Linked DNA regions of Homo sapiens: region 2 is linked to region 1. The links come from fine-mapping of genetic effects on gene expression. Tissue or cell type: whole blood. Region 1 holds a variant in brackets; the other region holds the start of a gene. All regions are shown on one strand. Distances are between the middles of the regions.

Region 1 (8,108 bases):
TAGGATTACAGGCATGAGCCACCGTGCCTGTCCTATATGCCACATTTTTTTAACCACTCATTGGTTGATGGGCATTTAGGTTGGCTCCATATTTTTGCAATTGGTGAATTGTGCTGCTATATATATGTGTGCATGTCTTCTTCATATAATGACTTTTTTGGGGGAGGTCCAAAACATACTTTTCATCTACTAACTCTGTGTATCCCTATATGTAGGAATATATGTAGATGCAATAAAGTTATATAAAAAGGAAAGTAAGGGCCGGGTGCAGTGGCTCACACCTGTAATCCCAGCCTGAGCAAGAGTGATTAAAAAAAAAAAAAAAAAAAAGGTAAGTAAGGACATGATAAAAACAAGATAGGCTGTGTGTGAGGAGAAGATGGTAGATGAAGGTTATTTCCAAGTCTCTAGGTTTCATCTGAGATGTCGGGTCAAGGGAGCTAATTACATTATTTAAATATTTTAGTTAAATATTATAACTAAAAGAAGTTCATACATAAACCAATGATAAGTATATGTTATAAATTATAATTAATCCAAATCTGTGTATCTCAGTTTCAATAAAAAGAAAAAACTTATGCAGGAAAGGAAATATAGTATATTATGTGGCACAGGTGAGGATAGCATTTAAGTAATGTGAATGAATACTGAATGGTGATCTAACTAAAATTGTCCATAGAGCCAAAATTTAAAATTAAAAGTGTGTATTTATGTGGATGAACAGGATGCAAAAGATAAGCAAATCTTCATCTTCTATACTGGGAAATCAGCAGATAATGGCTAAAATGGAAAAGTGAAGAAATCATATAATAATCATTATTTGAAGTAAAAACGTAAAGAAAGAGAATCTGCTACCAGGGTTCAAAATGGTTGCCTGGAGGTACAGTGGTGGAGTTGGGAGTGAGAAAATAAGTTGATATTTATTTATAACAAGATTGTTAAGGTTGTTTGACTCCCTAAACTGCTTATAAAATCGGTAAATTTAGTTAAAATAAAAATTAAAAATAATTTTTAAACAATATCAGAACTAACTAAAAATAAAAGAAATATGTAGTACAAAATAATGAAAACTCATATCTGAGTATACTTTGCCTAAAACTTATCCTATCAATTAATCTATTATTTCAACCAATTGGTTTTCAGCCAATTCCTTTACTCTTTTTCACATGGCAAAAGTATGCTATGCCTGCTTTCAATTAAAAAAAAAAAGCTGAAGAAAGTATGTGCGGTTCATCTGCATGGATTTTTTAATTTTTTTTATTTGAATTTAATTTAATTTAATTTTAGGTTCCAGGATGCATGTGCAGGACATGCAGGTTTGTTACATAGATAAACATGTGCCATGGTGATTTGTTGCACTTATCAACCCATTAGTTAAGTATTAAGCCCTGCATGCATTAACTATTTATCCTGATGCTCTCCACCCCCACCACCAACAGGCCCCAGTGTGTGTTGTTCCCCTCCTTGCGTCCATGTGTTCTCCTTGTTCAGCTCCCACTTATAAGTGAGAACATGTGATGTTTGGTTTTCTGTTCCTGTGTTGGTTTGCTGAACATAATGGCTTCCAACTCCATCCATGTCCCTGCAAAGGACATGATCTTGTTCCGTTTTATGGCTGCATAGTATTCCATTGTGTATATGTACCACATTTTCTTTATCCAGTCTATCATTGATAGGCATTTGGATTGATTCCGTGTCTTTGCTATTGTGATTAGTGCTGCAGTGAACATACACATGCATGTATCTTTACAATAGAATGATTTATATCCCTTTGGGTATATACCCAGTGACGAGATTGCTGTGTCAAATGGTATTTCTGGTTCCAGGTCTTTGAGGAATTGCCATGCCATCTTCCACAATGGTTGAACTAATTTACATTCTCACCAACAGTGTAAAAGCATTCCTGTTTCTCCACAGCCTCACCAGCATCTGTTGTTCCTTGACTTTTTGATAATGGCCATTCTGACTGGTGTGTGATGGTATCTCATTGTGGTTTTGATTTGCATTTCTCTAATGATCAGTGATGTTGAGCTTTTTTTCATGTTTGTGGGATACATAAATGTCTTCCTTTGAGAAATGTCTGTTCATGTCCTTTGCCCACTTTTTAATGCAGTTTTTTTTACTTATAAATTTGTTTAATTTACAAGTAAATTCTGAATATTAGACCTTTGTCAGATGGATAGATTGCAAAAGTTTTCTCCCATTCTGCAGGTTGTCTGTTCAGTCTGATGATAGTTTCTTTTGCTGTGCAGAAGCTCTTTAGTTTAATTAGATCATATTTGTCAAGTTTTGCTTTTGTTGCAATTGCTTTTGATGTTTTCATCCTGAAATCTTTGGCTGTGCCTATCTCCTGAGTGGTATTGCCTAGATTTTCTTCTAGGGTTTTTATAATTTAGGGTTTTACATTGAAGTCTTTAATTCATTTTGAGTTAATGTTTGGATAAAGTGTAAGGAATGGCTTCAGTTTCAGGCTTCTGCATGTGGCTAGCCAGTTCTCCCAGCACCATTTATTAAATAGGGAATCCTTTCTCTATTGCTCATTTTTGTCAGGTTTGTCAAAGATCAGATGGTTGTAGATGTGCAGTCTTATTTCTGAGTTCTGTATTCTGTTCCATTGGTCTATGTGTCTGTTTTTGTACCAGTACCGTGCTGTTTTGTTTGAAGTTGGGTAGCATGATGCTTCCAGCTTTCTTCTTTTTGCTTAGGAGTGTCTTGGCTATATGGGCTCTTTTTTGGTTTCATATGAATTTTAAAGTAGTTTTTGCTAATTCTGTGAAGAATGTCAATGGTAGTTTAATGGGAATAGCAATGAATCTATAAATTACTTTGGGCAGTAAGGCCATTTTCATGATATTGATTTTTCCTATCGATGAGTTTTTCGATTTGTTTGTGTCTTCTCTGATTTCCTTGAGTAGTGGTTTGTAGTTCTCCTTGAAGAGGTCCTTCACTTCCCTTGTTAACTGTATTCTCTTTGTAGCAATTGTGAATGGGAGTTCATTCATGTTTGGGCTCTCTGCTTGTCTGTTGTTGGCATATAGGAATGCTTGTGATTTTTGCACATTGATTTTGTATCCTGAGACTTCGCTGCAGTTGCTTATCAGCTTAAGAATCTTTGGGCTGAGACGATGGGGTTTTCTAGACACAGAATCACGTTATCTGCAAACAGTTTGACTTCCTCTCTTTCTATATGAATACATTTTATCTCTTTCTCCTGCCTGATTGCCCTGGCTAGAACTTCCGATACTATGTTGAGTAGGAGTGGTGAGAGAGGCCATCCTTGTCTTGTGCTGTTTTCAAGGTGAATGCTTCCAGCTATTGCCCATTCAATATGATATTAGCTGTGGGTTTCTCATAAATGGCTCTTATTATTTTGAGGTATGTTCCATCAATACCTAGTTTATTGAGAGTTTTTAACACGAAGGGATTTTGAATTTTATCAAAGGCCTTTTCTGCGCCTATTGAGATAATCATGTGGTTTTTGTCTTTAGTTCTGTTTATGTGATGAATTATGTTTATTGATTTGTGTATGTTGAACCAGCCTTGTATCCTGGGGATGAAGCCGACTTGATCGTGGTGGATCAGCTTTTTGATGTGCTACTGGATTTGGTTTGCTAGTATTTTATTGAGGGTTTTTGCATCAATATTCATTAGGGATATTGGCCTGAAGTTTTCTTTTTTGTTGTATCTCTGCCAGGATTTGGTATCAGGATCATGCTGGCCTCATAAAATGGGTTTTCAGTGGTTTGGAATAGTTTCAGAAAAAAATGGTACCAGCTTCTTTTTGTATCTCTGATAGAACTCAGCTGTAAATCTGTCTGGTCCTGGACTTTTTTTGGTTGGTAGGCTATTTATTACTGCCTGAACTTCAGAACTCATTATTGGGCTATTCAAGAATTCACCTTCTTCCTGGCTCAGTCTTGGGAGGGTGTATATGTCCAGGAATTTCTCCCTTTCTTCTAGATTTTCTAGTTTATTTACATAGAGGTGTTTATAGCATTCTCTGATGATTGTTTGTATTTCTGTGGGGTCAGTGGTGATATCCCCTTTATAATTTTTTATCGTGTCTACTTGATTCTTCTCTTTTCTTCTTTATTAGTCTAGCTAGCAGTCTATCCATTTTATTAATTTTTTCAAAAAAGAGCTCCTGGATTTGTTAATTTTTCAAAGGGTTTTTCATGTCTCTTTCTCCTTCAGTGCCACTCTGATCTTGGTTATTTCTTGTCTTCTGCTAGCTTTGGGGT[A/G]TGTTTGCTCTTGATTCTCTAGTTCTTTTAATTGTGATGTTAGGGTGTCAATTTGAGATCTTTCTAGTCTTTGATGTGGGCATTTAGTGCTATAAACTTTCCTCTTAACACTGCTTTAGCCATGTCCCAGAGATTCTGGTGGATTGTCTCTTTGTTGTCAGTGGTTTCAAAGAACTTCTTGATTTCTGCTTTAATTTTATTATTTACCCAGGAGTCATTCAGGAGCAGTTGTTCAATTTCCATGTAATTGTGTGGTTTTGAGTGAGTTTCTTAATCTTGAGTTCTAATTTGATTGTGCTGTGTTCTGAGAGACTGTCGTGATTTCAGTTCATCAAAAAAAAGATTATTTTGCTTTTGCTGAGGAGTGTTTTACTTCCAATTATGTGATCGATTTTAGAGTACGTGACATGTGGCACTGAGAGGAATGCATATTCTCTTGTTTTGGGGTGGAGAGTTCTGTGCATATCTATCAGGTCCACTTGATCCAGGGCTGAGTTTAAGACCTGAATATCTTTGTTAATTTTCTATCTCAATAATTTGTCTAATGTTGATAATGGGGTGTTAAAGTCTCCCACTATTATCATGTGGGAGTGTAAGTCTCTTTGTATGTCTCTAATAATTTGTTTTATGAATCTAGGGTCTCCTTTATTGGGTGCATATGTATTTAAAATAGCTCTTCCTGTTGAATTGAACCCTTTACCATTATGTAATGCCCTTCTTTGTCTTTTTCAATCTTTGTCGGTTTAAAATCTGTTTTGTCAGAAACTAAGATTGCAATCCTTGCTTTTATCTGCTTTCCATTTGGTTGGTAAATTATCCTCTATCCCTTTATTTTGAGCCTATGTGTGTCTTTGCACATGTGTCTCTTGAATACAGCACACTAATGGGTCTTGACTGTTTATGCAGCTTGCCGTTCTGTGTCTTCTCATTGGGGCACTTAACCCATTTACATTTAAGGTTAATATTGTTATCTGTGAATTTGATTGTGTCATCATGATTCTAGCTGGTTATTTTGCAGACTTGTTAATGTAGTTCCTTTATAGTGCTATTGGTCTTTGCACTTCAGTGTATTTTTGTGGTGGCTGGTAATGTTTTTTCCTTTCCATATTTAGTGCTTCCTTCAGGAGCTCTTGCAGGGCAGGCCTGGTGGTGATAAATTCCCTCAGCATTTGGCTGTCTGAAAAGGATTTTATTTCTCCTTCACTTATGAAACTTAGTTTGGCCAGATATGAAATTCTGGGTTGGAAATTCTTTTCTTTAAGAATGTTGAATGTTGACCCCCAATCTCTTCTGGCTTGTAGGGTTTCTGCTGAGAGGTCCACTGTTAGTCTGATGGGCTTCCCTTTATAGGTTGCCCGGTCTTTCTCTCTGGCTGCCCTTAGCTTTTTTTTCTTCATTTTAACCTTGGAAAATCTGATGATTATGTGTCTTGGGATTGATCTTCCCATGGAGTATCTTAATGGGGTTCTCTGGATTTTGTAAATTTGAATGTTAACCTGTCTTGCTAGGTTGGGGAAGTTCTCCTGAATGATATCCTGAAGTATGTTTTCCAACTTGGTTTCGTTCTCCCTGTCTCTTTCAGGTACCCCAATCAGTCGTAGTTTCAGTCTTTTTACATAATCCCATAGTTCTCGGAAGTTTTGTTCATTCCTTTTCATTGTTTTCTTGTCTGCTGTCTTATTTCAGTAAGATAGTCTTCAAGCTCTGAAATTCTTTCCTCTGCCTGTTCTATTTGGCTACTGATACTTGCAGTTGCATTGTGAAGTTCTTGTGTCGGGTTTTTCAGCTCCATCAGGTCATTTATATTCCACTCTAAACTGGTTATGCTGGTTAACAGCTTCTGTAATGTTTTATCATGGTTCTCAGCTTCTCTGCATTGGGTTAGGATATGCCCCTTTAGCTTAACAAAGTTCATTATTACACGTCTTCTGAAGCCTACTTCTGTCAATTCATCCATTTCAGCCTCCTCCTAGTTCTGTGCCCTTGCTAGAGAGGTATTGCAATCACTTGGAGAAGAATAAGCACTCTGGCCTTTTGAGTTTTCAGCATTTTTTGTTGTTGTTGTTGATTCTTTCTCATCTTTCTGAGTTTATCTAGCTTTGATCTTTGAGGCTCCTGACCTTTGAGTGGGGTTCTTGTGGGGACTTTTTTGTTGATGCTCTTGTTGCTTTCTGTTTGTTTTTCTTTTAACAGTCAGAATGCTCTTCTGTAGGGCTGCTTCAGTTTGCTGGGAGTCTACTCCAGACCCTGTTTGCCTGGGTCCCTCCCACACCTGGAGGTGTCACCAGTGGAGGCTACAGAACAGCAAAGAAGACTGCCTGCTCCTTCCTCTGGGAGCTCTGTCCCAGAGGGGCACCACCCTGATGCCAGTGGGAATGCCCCTGTATAGGGCGTCTGGCATATCCTGTTGTGGGGGTCTCACCCAGTCAGGAGACATGGGATCAGAGACCCGCTTAACAAAGCACTCTAGCTGCTCCTCAGTGGAGAGGGTGTGCTGTGCTGGGGAAATCCCACTCATCCAGACTGCCCTGACTCCTCAGAGACACCAGGCGGAAAGACTAAGTCTGCTGATCCGCAGAGACCATGGCTGCCCTTCCCCTACGAGGCTCTGTCCCAGGGAGATGTGAGTTCTGACTATAAACCCCTGGCCTGAGTAGCTAAAATTCCCACAAGGAGGCCCCACTGGTTGAGGAGGGACGGGTAAGGGTCTGGCCTAAAGAGTCAGTCTGGCCATGATCTGCCACAGCCACTGTGCTGTGCTGTGGGGAATTCCTCCTGGGTCCAAACCACCCAATCTCCCCAGCATCCACAGGGGAAAACCAGCAGACTGGAGCTGCAGTGGTGGCTGCTGCCCCTCCCACTGGGAGCTCAGTCATCTTAGGCAGCAGGAAGCCACAGTGATAATGGCCACCCTTCCCCCTGGGAGCTCAGTTGGTCTTAGGCAGCAAGCAGCTGCAGTGATGACAGCCGCCCAAGCCCCTGGGAACTTGGTAGTCTTAGTCAGCCTCCAGCCGAAATGTCCGCTGAGAACCTGCACAGCTCTGTGCTGGGAACCAAAGCCCTGGTGGTGTGGGCTCATGAGAGGGGGTATCGTGATCTGTGGGTTGCAGAGATCTGTGGAAAATGTGTGGTTTTCCCAGGCCGTGTAGCACAATCACTCACCGCATCTCTTGGCTGGGGTTGGGAGCTCCCCTTCCCCTGTGCAGCTCCTGAGTGGGCCATCACTCCACCCTGCTTTTCCTTGCTCTCCGTGGGTCACGCCAACTGCCTAGTTAGTCCCAGTGAAAGAACCTGGATACCTCAGTTGCTGGTACAGGATTCACTTGCCATTTTCGTTCTCAGTGGGAGCCTCTGACAGCAGCTGTTTCTGTTTGGCTATCTTGGCCCCTCCCCCAGCACAGATTTTTATAAAACTAATGGCTATAGTGCACAGTCCTAAGATTCCGAAAAGAGGTTAAACTTTTATTTGGGAATAATACACTGAAAAGACAGGTACGATGTTGTTCTGATTGAAAAAGCTCCATAAAATAATTGAACACGTACTATTAGGTAAACTGAAAACTAGAAAAATTATTATCTAAATGATGTAACATTATTAAGCACTGTGACAAGGATTCTAGCAAAACTGCAAAAAATCCTGTTCCGCACTTCTGGTATAAAATATCTTTTTGTTCAGGCATGATGGGGCACTGTGTCTGCTAGCCATAGTCGGCATGTTTTATCTTCTAGTTAACGTATATCAAACCCAGCACTCAAATACAACTTTCCAGATCCTGGATGTGACAGTGAAGCACTGTTCAGAGCCCATTTTCTTTGGCCATTGATCTCAGATGCACCCTGAAACAAAAGTATTTACAACAACAATGA
Region 2 (8,108 bases), 250 kb before region 1:
TGATAAACTATATTCTTCAGAGACAAGAAAAAGATATAAGAAGGAAATTTGAGGCATCAGGAATAAAGAGACAGCAACAGAAATAACTATCTGGTTAAATATAATGGCTACTTTTTTCCTTAAAATATGATTGATGGTTGGAAAAAATTATAATGTCTGATAGAGTATATAATGTATGTAAATATAAAATATAAGACAACAATATATATATGGTGCAGGGGAAAGGGTGATAAGGTTTCTATATGCCAAATGAAGCAGTAAAACAATGAAATGATCCGAAGTAGACAACGAAAAGTAAGTATTTTATAATTCCTAGAGCAGCCACTAAAGAATTATACAAAAAGATATAGTCAAAACCATAGTATATAAAATAGAATACTAAATAATGTTCAAACAGTCAAATGAAAGCAGGAAAGGGGAAACATAAATATGGAGCAGCTAGCACTCTCACCTATTAGTGGTGGGACTGGAAAATGCTTTTGGAAAACTGTCAGTTTCTTAAAAAGTAAAGGATTTATCTAGTAGCTCCACTGTTATGCATTAACTTCAGAGAAATAAAAGCATATGTTCATACAATGACTCATACATGAATTTTCAGAGCAGCTGTAAATGTATTAGTCCTGAACTGGAAACAACTCAGATGTCCATCGACAAGTGACTAGATAAACTGTGGTATATCTGCACAGTGGGATACTCCACAGCAAAAAAAAGGAATTGATACATGCAATAACATGGAGAAATTTCAAAATAATGTAATTATGCTGAGTGAAAGAAGCCAGACAAAAAAGATTCCATTTATATAAAATACTAGATATGCAAACTAATCTATAGTGACCTAAAGCAGATTAGTAGTTTCTAGAGAAGGAAGAGGGTAAAGCAGAGAAAGAAGGGAGACAGGGATTATAAATGACCGTCAAAAATTTTTTAGGGTTATGGATGTTCTCTTGATTATGGTAATGGTTTCAAAAGTAAATATATGTCAAAATTCATCAAATTGTATATTCTCATTTAATGTGCAGGGTATTGCATGTCAATTATACCTCAATAAAGTTGTAAAATGTTTTTTTAGAGGGTGTAAACTGTGAACACTGCATATCAGTGTTCATCCTTTTGCTCTTACATGATGACAAGGAAGAACAGTAGACATCTCCTATGAATAAAATGGAACTATATAATTGTTTAAGCAAAAACATCACTTAATGATGGAAATATTTTTAAAAAAATTTTAGGCTGTGTGGTAGCTCGCACATATAATCCCGGCACTTTAGGAGGCAAAGGCAGGAGGATCACTTCAGCCCAGGAGTTCAAGACCAGAATGGGAAACATAGGGAGACCCCATCTCTACGAAAAATTTAAAAATTAGCTAGGTGTGTGGGCACATGTCTGTGGTCCCAGCTACTTAGGAGGATGAGATGGGAGGATCATTTGAGCCTGGAAAGTCGAGGCTGCAGTGAGCTGTAACTGCACCACTGCATTCCAGCCTGGGTGACAGAGCAAGACCCTGCCTCAAAAAAAAAATATTTTTTTAATTTTTAAATACTTTATTTGTCTTAAACGTATAAGCAATCCTCACTTGGCACAGTCTGATATGAATTTCAGTTACCACAGTTTATTAACCGTGAGAAATAGCATAAAAGTTTGCTACTAGCTTTTCAGTTCACAAATCATTACATAAATAACATATGAATCAAAATTGACCAATTTGCAATTTTACTTCTTTCAAAGTCTATGGGTGATTGGTCACTGTGCATCTGTTATTCAGTTCACACACAGGCTGCAAAGCATGGAGGTTTGTTATTAATATTTCTGTGCCCTTGAGATAAACCCACATGGAATTTTACAGATTAAAAGAGGAAATTGGCCAAAAGAATGAAAGTGCACTAAAGAAGAGTGATAATACTAGAAGTGAAACTTGCATTAAACATAAATGGAGCAAATGAAAAAAAAGCTGCCTGTGGGAACATGCTGATTGTGGCAACAATGACACTGCCGCCATTTGAGACATTCTAGATATGCAGACTGAGGAAATCAGTGAAGGTGAACTTATAGACATAAATGAGGAAAAGTGATTGTGATGAAAGGCTGATGATGTGTCAGAGGAAGTGACACTGGCAAAAAAAACACATTAAAGGAACTCTCAGAGATATTTCACAACATTGAAAACGTAATGGATAAAATGTTGGAAACTAATATTTAAATTTCTCCAGAACGCAGAACTCATAAGCAACTGTGTTCTCCAAGTAAATATCTTCACAGGTTCCTCAATTAATGTGGGCAAAATTAAAAGTACAACTTGCTTCTTCCCTTTGGAAAACCCTCTCTCAGAGTATATTACCAACATTCAACTTCTTATACAAGGCATAGATCTGGGAATCATTATTCATTCTTCTCTTTTTGTCATTCACGTATCCACTCAATTTCCATGGCCTGTTGATTCTATTTCTCAGACGTTGTTCAAATCTCTCCACTATCTTTATTCTACTTGGCAACTCTGTGGCCCAGGCTTCCAACAACTCTCTCCCGGACAAGTGTAATCACAACAGTTACCTAACTTGGCTCCCACTCTTGTTCTCAGTTGCAACCCATTCTCCAAGCAGAAAACAAAATGCAATAGCTGTTACCTTATTCTCATCTTCACACCTCTACTCAAGTACACAAGGCTCTTCCTCATCTAGTTTCTGTCTACTTCATCTCTTGTCAATGGTCCCTACCCCAATTCTCCGCTCTAGTCATTCTGAACTTTGTTCAATTCCTGGCCTGTGTCCTCTGCCTTTAATAGGCTGCCTGGCACACTGTAGGAATTCACTAAATATGCAGACTGAATGAATGAACGAGTCCGTGGAGGGCAGTTATTCTTTGGAGTAACTTAAGAGAGAAGGAATACAGTACAACGAAGTATTCTTATTTAGGTTTATAGTGTCTTCACCTGAGCCCGCGGGGGAACCCCCCCCCCACCCCCGGGGAACCCCCCCCACCCCCGCCGCCCCCCGCCTGCAAGTTGTTACCAGTAAATAAAAGGGATCCTATTTTAGCAAGCCACACAGCATTAGAGGGCAAATAATAGTTTGGTGGCAGGAGAGCGATGAGACGGGAAAGTGTGGGGCAAAGCTTACAGTCATTGGTCCAGATTCTAACTGGCCTGTTAGCCAAAAAGTAAGGTTTTCTTTACCTCCGTGTTGACTCTGCTCTCCGAAGGCGAAGAGGGTCCTCCAAACCCGTTTGGCGTGCGGACAAAAACCCCAGCATATCGTGTCCTCACACCGGCTGGAGCACTGGACGTCGCCATGACAGAGCTCAGGGGCGGGACTGGAACAGCAGAGTCTCCCATTGGTCAGTCGGTGATATATCCGGCCAATGGTGAGCGCCGTTACTAGAAGGGCTCCAGGATGGAGGCCGACCTGACTTCTCCGCCTCGGTGGGCTGGGTCGGCGGCTGGAGCATTACCCCTACTGCGGGTCCCGCTGCTGGCAGCGCTGGAAACTGGGTGGACGGCATGGGTTGGTCTCAGGATTTGTTCCGCGCCTTGTGGAGATCGCTGTCAAGGGAAGTGAAGGAGCACGTGGGCACGGACCAATTCGGGAACAAATACTACTACATCCCGCAGTACAAGAACTGGAGAGGTGAGGTGGCGGCGTGGGCAGCGATTGCGTGGTCAGTGATTGCGAGGTCAGTAAAGGAGGGAAAAGTGAGAGCCCCTAGTCAACTAACGCATCATGCGACACTTAGGGTGTCACCGGAGAGAATTTCCCGAGTTCGTTCTCCCCTGTCGACCCCTTCACTCTGGCATCGGAGCCCTACCCGGCCCGGCTCTGGGCGCCTTGGCCCGGCCTCGTGCGTCCGCGGTCCCTACTACCCAGCGCCTTCCCCCGGCGTGCCCCGGGCTGCTTGCGCTGTTAAGGCGCACCACCACTTTCCTCCCAGCCACGCCTGTAGAGGAGCCTCAGTTTTAGCCCTGGACTGGCGACGGAGGCAGGGAAAAGTCCACGGAAATCTTTCACCAAAGGGGCTAGAAGGGCCAGGGGAGGGGTTTTTCGTACGCTGTTCCCCGCCTTGTGACCCAGAGCTGAGTGGTGTAATTGAAGAGGAGTATCTTCAGCGCCTCGGCTGTCTTCTTTCTTGGTGTTTACCCTTTTCGGTGGCACCCTGGCTCCGGCGCTGGCCCCATGCGCCTTCCTTACTACCAAGACTTGTCAGAAGTAGGTCCATATCCCCACAAGGCTCGCTGATTCCTTTCTCGGGAGTTGACATTCCAAGACCCCGTTGAGCTCAATTTAAGAAACGTGGCAATAATCATGGTGTTACTGTGTAGGATTCGTGCCAAGTAGTTGAGCGGGTTGTTTGGGGAGTAAGGAGGCGTTGCTGTCCATTGAAATCACACTGTGTAGCCGCCGTCGTAACCTCTTCTGTGTTGTTCCATCGCCGCATGCAGAAAATGTCAGGTTTTGGGCGAAGAGGCGTGGGTTAGAATCTCAGCTTTGACACCTGATAGCTCGGGAATCACGGAAAAAGTACTTGTCCTCTCCAAGTCTCAACATCCTCACTTGAAAGTTAGAGATAATATAAGATCAGCAATGTTGAGAAGCACTAAGACCTTTCCAAGATTATGTGCCATTCATTTCCCACACATATAAAATGTATTCTGTGATTTATCACTCAATTAATTTATTTTTGCCTGGCCTTTTTCTGTAACTTATTTTAATATTTAGACTTGTTTCCCTAATGAGCTCCTCTGTCAGGCAGGGAATATGTCTCACAAAAAAAGAAAAAAGCCTGCAAAGAACATAGCATGGTGTTAAGTATTTCTTGACAGGTTGCAAGCAGAGAGATGTTTCTTTTCCATAAGTTGTCAGTAAAATTAAAAATATGCAAACTGTCAGACTGAGTTTTTTTAAATTGAAATATAATTTACATACAGTAACATTCACCCTTTATGGTGTACAGTTTTATTGTTTTTGACAAATGAGTAGAGTAACCTCACTGGATTCAAGTAATAGAATAATTCCATCACCATCAGAATTTCCTCCAACTCCTTAGTAGTTCATTCCCACACCCTTTGGCAACTACTGATGTGTTTTATGGGCCTATAGTTTTGTCTTTTCTAGAATATCATATAAATGGAATTATACAGGATTTAGACTTTTGAGTCTGGCTTGCTTCACATAGCATAATGTAGCTGAGATTCATCCATGTGTCAGTAGTTGTTCCTTTTTATTGCTCAGTAGTATTCCATTGTATGGGTTTGCCAGTTTATCTGTTCACAAGCTGAAGGACATTAGGATGTTTCCAGTTTCTGTGATTGTGACAAAAGCTCTACAAACATTCCCATACAGGATTTGTGTGAACGTAAGTTTTCATATCTCTTGGGTAAATATCTAGTAGTGGGATTACTAAGTTGTGTGATCAATGTGTGTTTAACTTTATGAGAAACTACCAAACTGTTTTTCAAAGTGGCTGTACCATTTTGTATTCCTGCCAGCAATGCATTAAAATTCTAGTTGTTTCCACACCCTCACCAGCACTTAGTATTATCTGATTTTTGGGTGTGTTTTTATTTTTATTTTAGCCATTTTGATAGGTATATAGTGGTATCTCATTGTGATTTTAAGTTTCATTTTCCTAATGCCTGAGGATGTTGACAGTCTTTTCATGTGCTTATTTACTATCTACAGATCTTCGGTGAAGTATTGTTCAAACCTTTTGCCCATTAAAAAATCCATTTATGGCTGGGTCCGGTGGCTCATGCCTGTAATCCCACCACTTTGGGAGGCCGAGGTGGGTGGATCACCTGAGATCAGGAGTTCCAGACCAGCCTGGCCAACATGGTGAAACCCCATCTCTACTAAAAATACAAAAATTAGCTGGGCATGGTGGCACGCGCCTGTAATCCCAGCTAGTCGGGAGGCTAAGGCAGGAAAATCACTTGAACCTGGGAGGCGGATGTTGCAGTGAGCCGAGATCACACCACTGCACTCCAGCCTGGGTGACAGAGTGAGACTCCACCTCAAAAAAAAAAAAAAAAAACAAGCCCAAAAAACAACAAACAAATATATTTATACCAGTTTTTGTATCATTCATTTATATAGAGATACAATACCATTAAAGTTTCAAATTAACAGTCATGTCTATTCTACAATAACATGAATATTTTATTTTTACATATTCTCACTAATTTGTATATTTTCTTACATAATTGTAATTGCATTTTGAGAGTTTTATTGAAGTATAATTGACAAAAAAAATTGCCCATGCTTAAAATGTATAATTTGGTAAGTTTTGACATATGTATATATCTGTGAAACCATCAACACAGTCAAGAAAATTAACATATTCAATATCCACAACAATTTGTTGTGCTCCTTTCTAGTCTTGCCTTATGCTTCTGCTTCCATGGATAGGCACTCATCTGATTTCTGACACTATACATTAGTTTGTATTTTTTATAATTTTTATTTAGTTATTTTTATTTGTTTATTTTGAGATGGAGTCTCGCCCTGTCGCCCAGGCTGGAGTGCAGTGGCGCTATCTCGGCTTACTGCAACCTCTGCCTCCCAGGTTCAAGTGATTCTCCTGCGTCAGCCTCCCAAGTAACTGAGATGTGTGCCACCCTGCCCAGTTAACTTTTTGTATCTTTAGTAGAGACGGGGTTTCACCATGTTGGTTAGGCTGGTCTTGAACTCCTGGCTTTGTGATCTGCCTGCCTCGGCCTCCCAAAGTGCTGGGATTACAGATGTGAGACAGTGCGCCTGGCTAGAATTTTATTTAAGTGGAAGCATACAGCACATATTCTGCTTTTTTTTTTTTTTGTTTTTTAGGTTCTTCACTCAGCATAATTATTTTGAGATTCATCCATGTTTTTGTGTTTATCAGTAGTTTATTTCTTTTTAATGCTGAGTAATATTCCATTGTATGTATATACCATAATTTGTTTATCCATTCACCTGTTCATAGATATTTGGGTTGTTTCTAGTTAGGGGTTATTACAAATAAATTATGAACATTCATGTGTAAGTCTTTGTATGGACTTATGTTTTTATTTCTCTTGATGTAATATTTAGAAATGGAATGGCTGAGTCAACTTGTTAGGTGTATGTTTAACTTCTTAAGAAACTGCCTAAGTGGTGGTACCGTTTTACCTTCCCACCAGGAGTGTATGAGATTTCCAGTTGTCCTATATCCTTATCAACACTTGGTATGGTCAGTCTTTTTAATTTTAGCTCTTCTAGTAGGTGTGTTGTGGTATCTCATTTTTTTTCTTTAGTTTTCTGTTTGCTATTAGTTGGTTTTTTTAGATTCTATTTTTAAAATACAGTAAAATTAACTTTTAAAATTGGTGTATAGTTCTATAAATTTGAACACATGTGATTCATGTAACCAACACCAAAATCAGGATACAGAACAGTTCCGTCACCCTGAATAACTCCCTCATGCTACCTTTTTGTAGTTACAATCTCTCCTCATCCCTAACCTCAGCAACCACTGATTTGTTCTCTGCCATTATACTTTTTTCCATTTGAGACTGTCCCACATGTATACTTATACCATATGTAACCTTTTGAACCTGGCTTCTTCTATTCAGCATAATGCCTTTGAGATTCATTACGTATATCAGTAGTTTGCTCCTTTTTACTGCTGATTAGTATTCCATGTTAATGGATGTACCAGTTTGTTCATTTACTCATTAAAGGGCATTTGAGTTTAGTTACTTGCAGTTTTTGGTGATTATGAATACAGCTGCAAGAAACATTCACATATGGGTTTCGTGTGAACATAAGTTTTCATTTTCCATGAGTACATACCTAAGAGTGTGAGTGCTTGGCCATAGCAGCTCCAGCTTACTCTGTAAAACGGAAATAACAGTACCTACTTAGCCTCACAAAGTATTTTTGCTACTCAAGAGAGACAAATTGGATAACGTAGCATTTAAGAGAATGGGATTTAATGTCGAAATCAGTTTGACTTAATTCACAGAGACCTTTTACTTGGTCATTTTTAAAAATTTATCACTGATTTGTAGTTTTCAGCATAGAGATCATGATATGTTTTGTTAAATTTATTATAAAGTATATTATATTGTATTGTTATTATAAATGATGCTTTAAAAAACGTAA

The links. PIP is the estimated chance that this variant, and not a neighbour inherited with it, causes the effect.
Region 2: ERCC8 starts here. The variant in region 1 is fine-mapped to the expression of ERCC8 in whole blood (INTERVAL, PIP above 0.99).

The regions. Positions count from the first base shown.
Region 1 is chr5:61,193,627-61,201,734 of GRCh38, forward strand. All of the region lies in intron 3 of SMIM15-AS1 (SMIM15 antisense RNA 1), which reads left to right. Among named protein-coding and RNA genes, the nearest start is that of SMIM15, 35 kb to the left of the region's middle. The variant A/G (reference allele first, on the strand shown) is at 4,242.
Region 2 is chr5:60,941,763-60,949,870 of GRCh38, forward strand. ERCC8 (ERCC excision repair 8, CSA ubiquitin ligase complex subunit) reads right to left here and starts at 3,308. Exons shown (of 12, transcript NM_000082.4): 1 at 3,170-3,308. The coding sequence starts at 3,246. NDUFAF2 (NADH:ubiquinone oxidoreductase complex assembly factor 2) reads left to right here and starts at 3,443. Exons shown (of 4, transcript NM_174889.5): 1 at 3,443-3,620. The coding sequence starts at 3,494. RefSeq lists an enhancer at 4,079-4,208.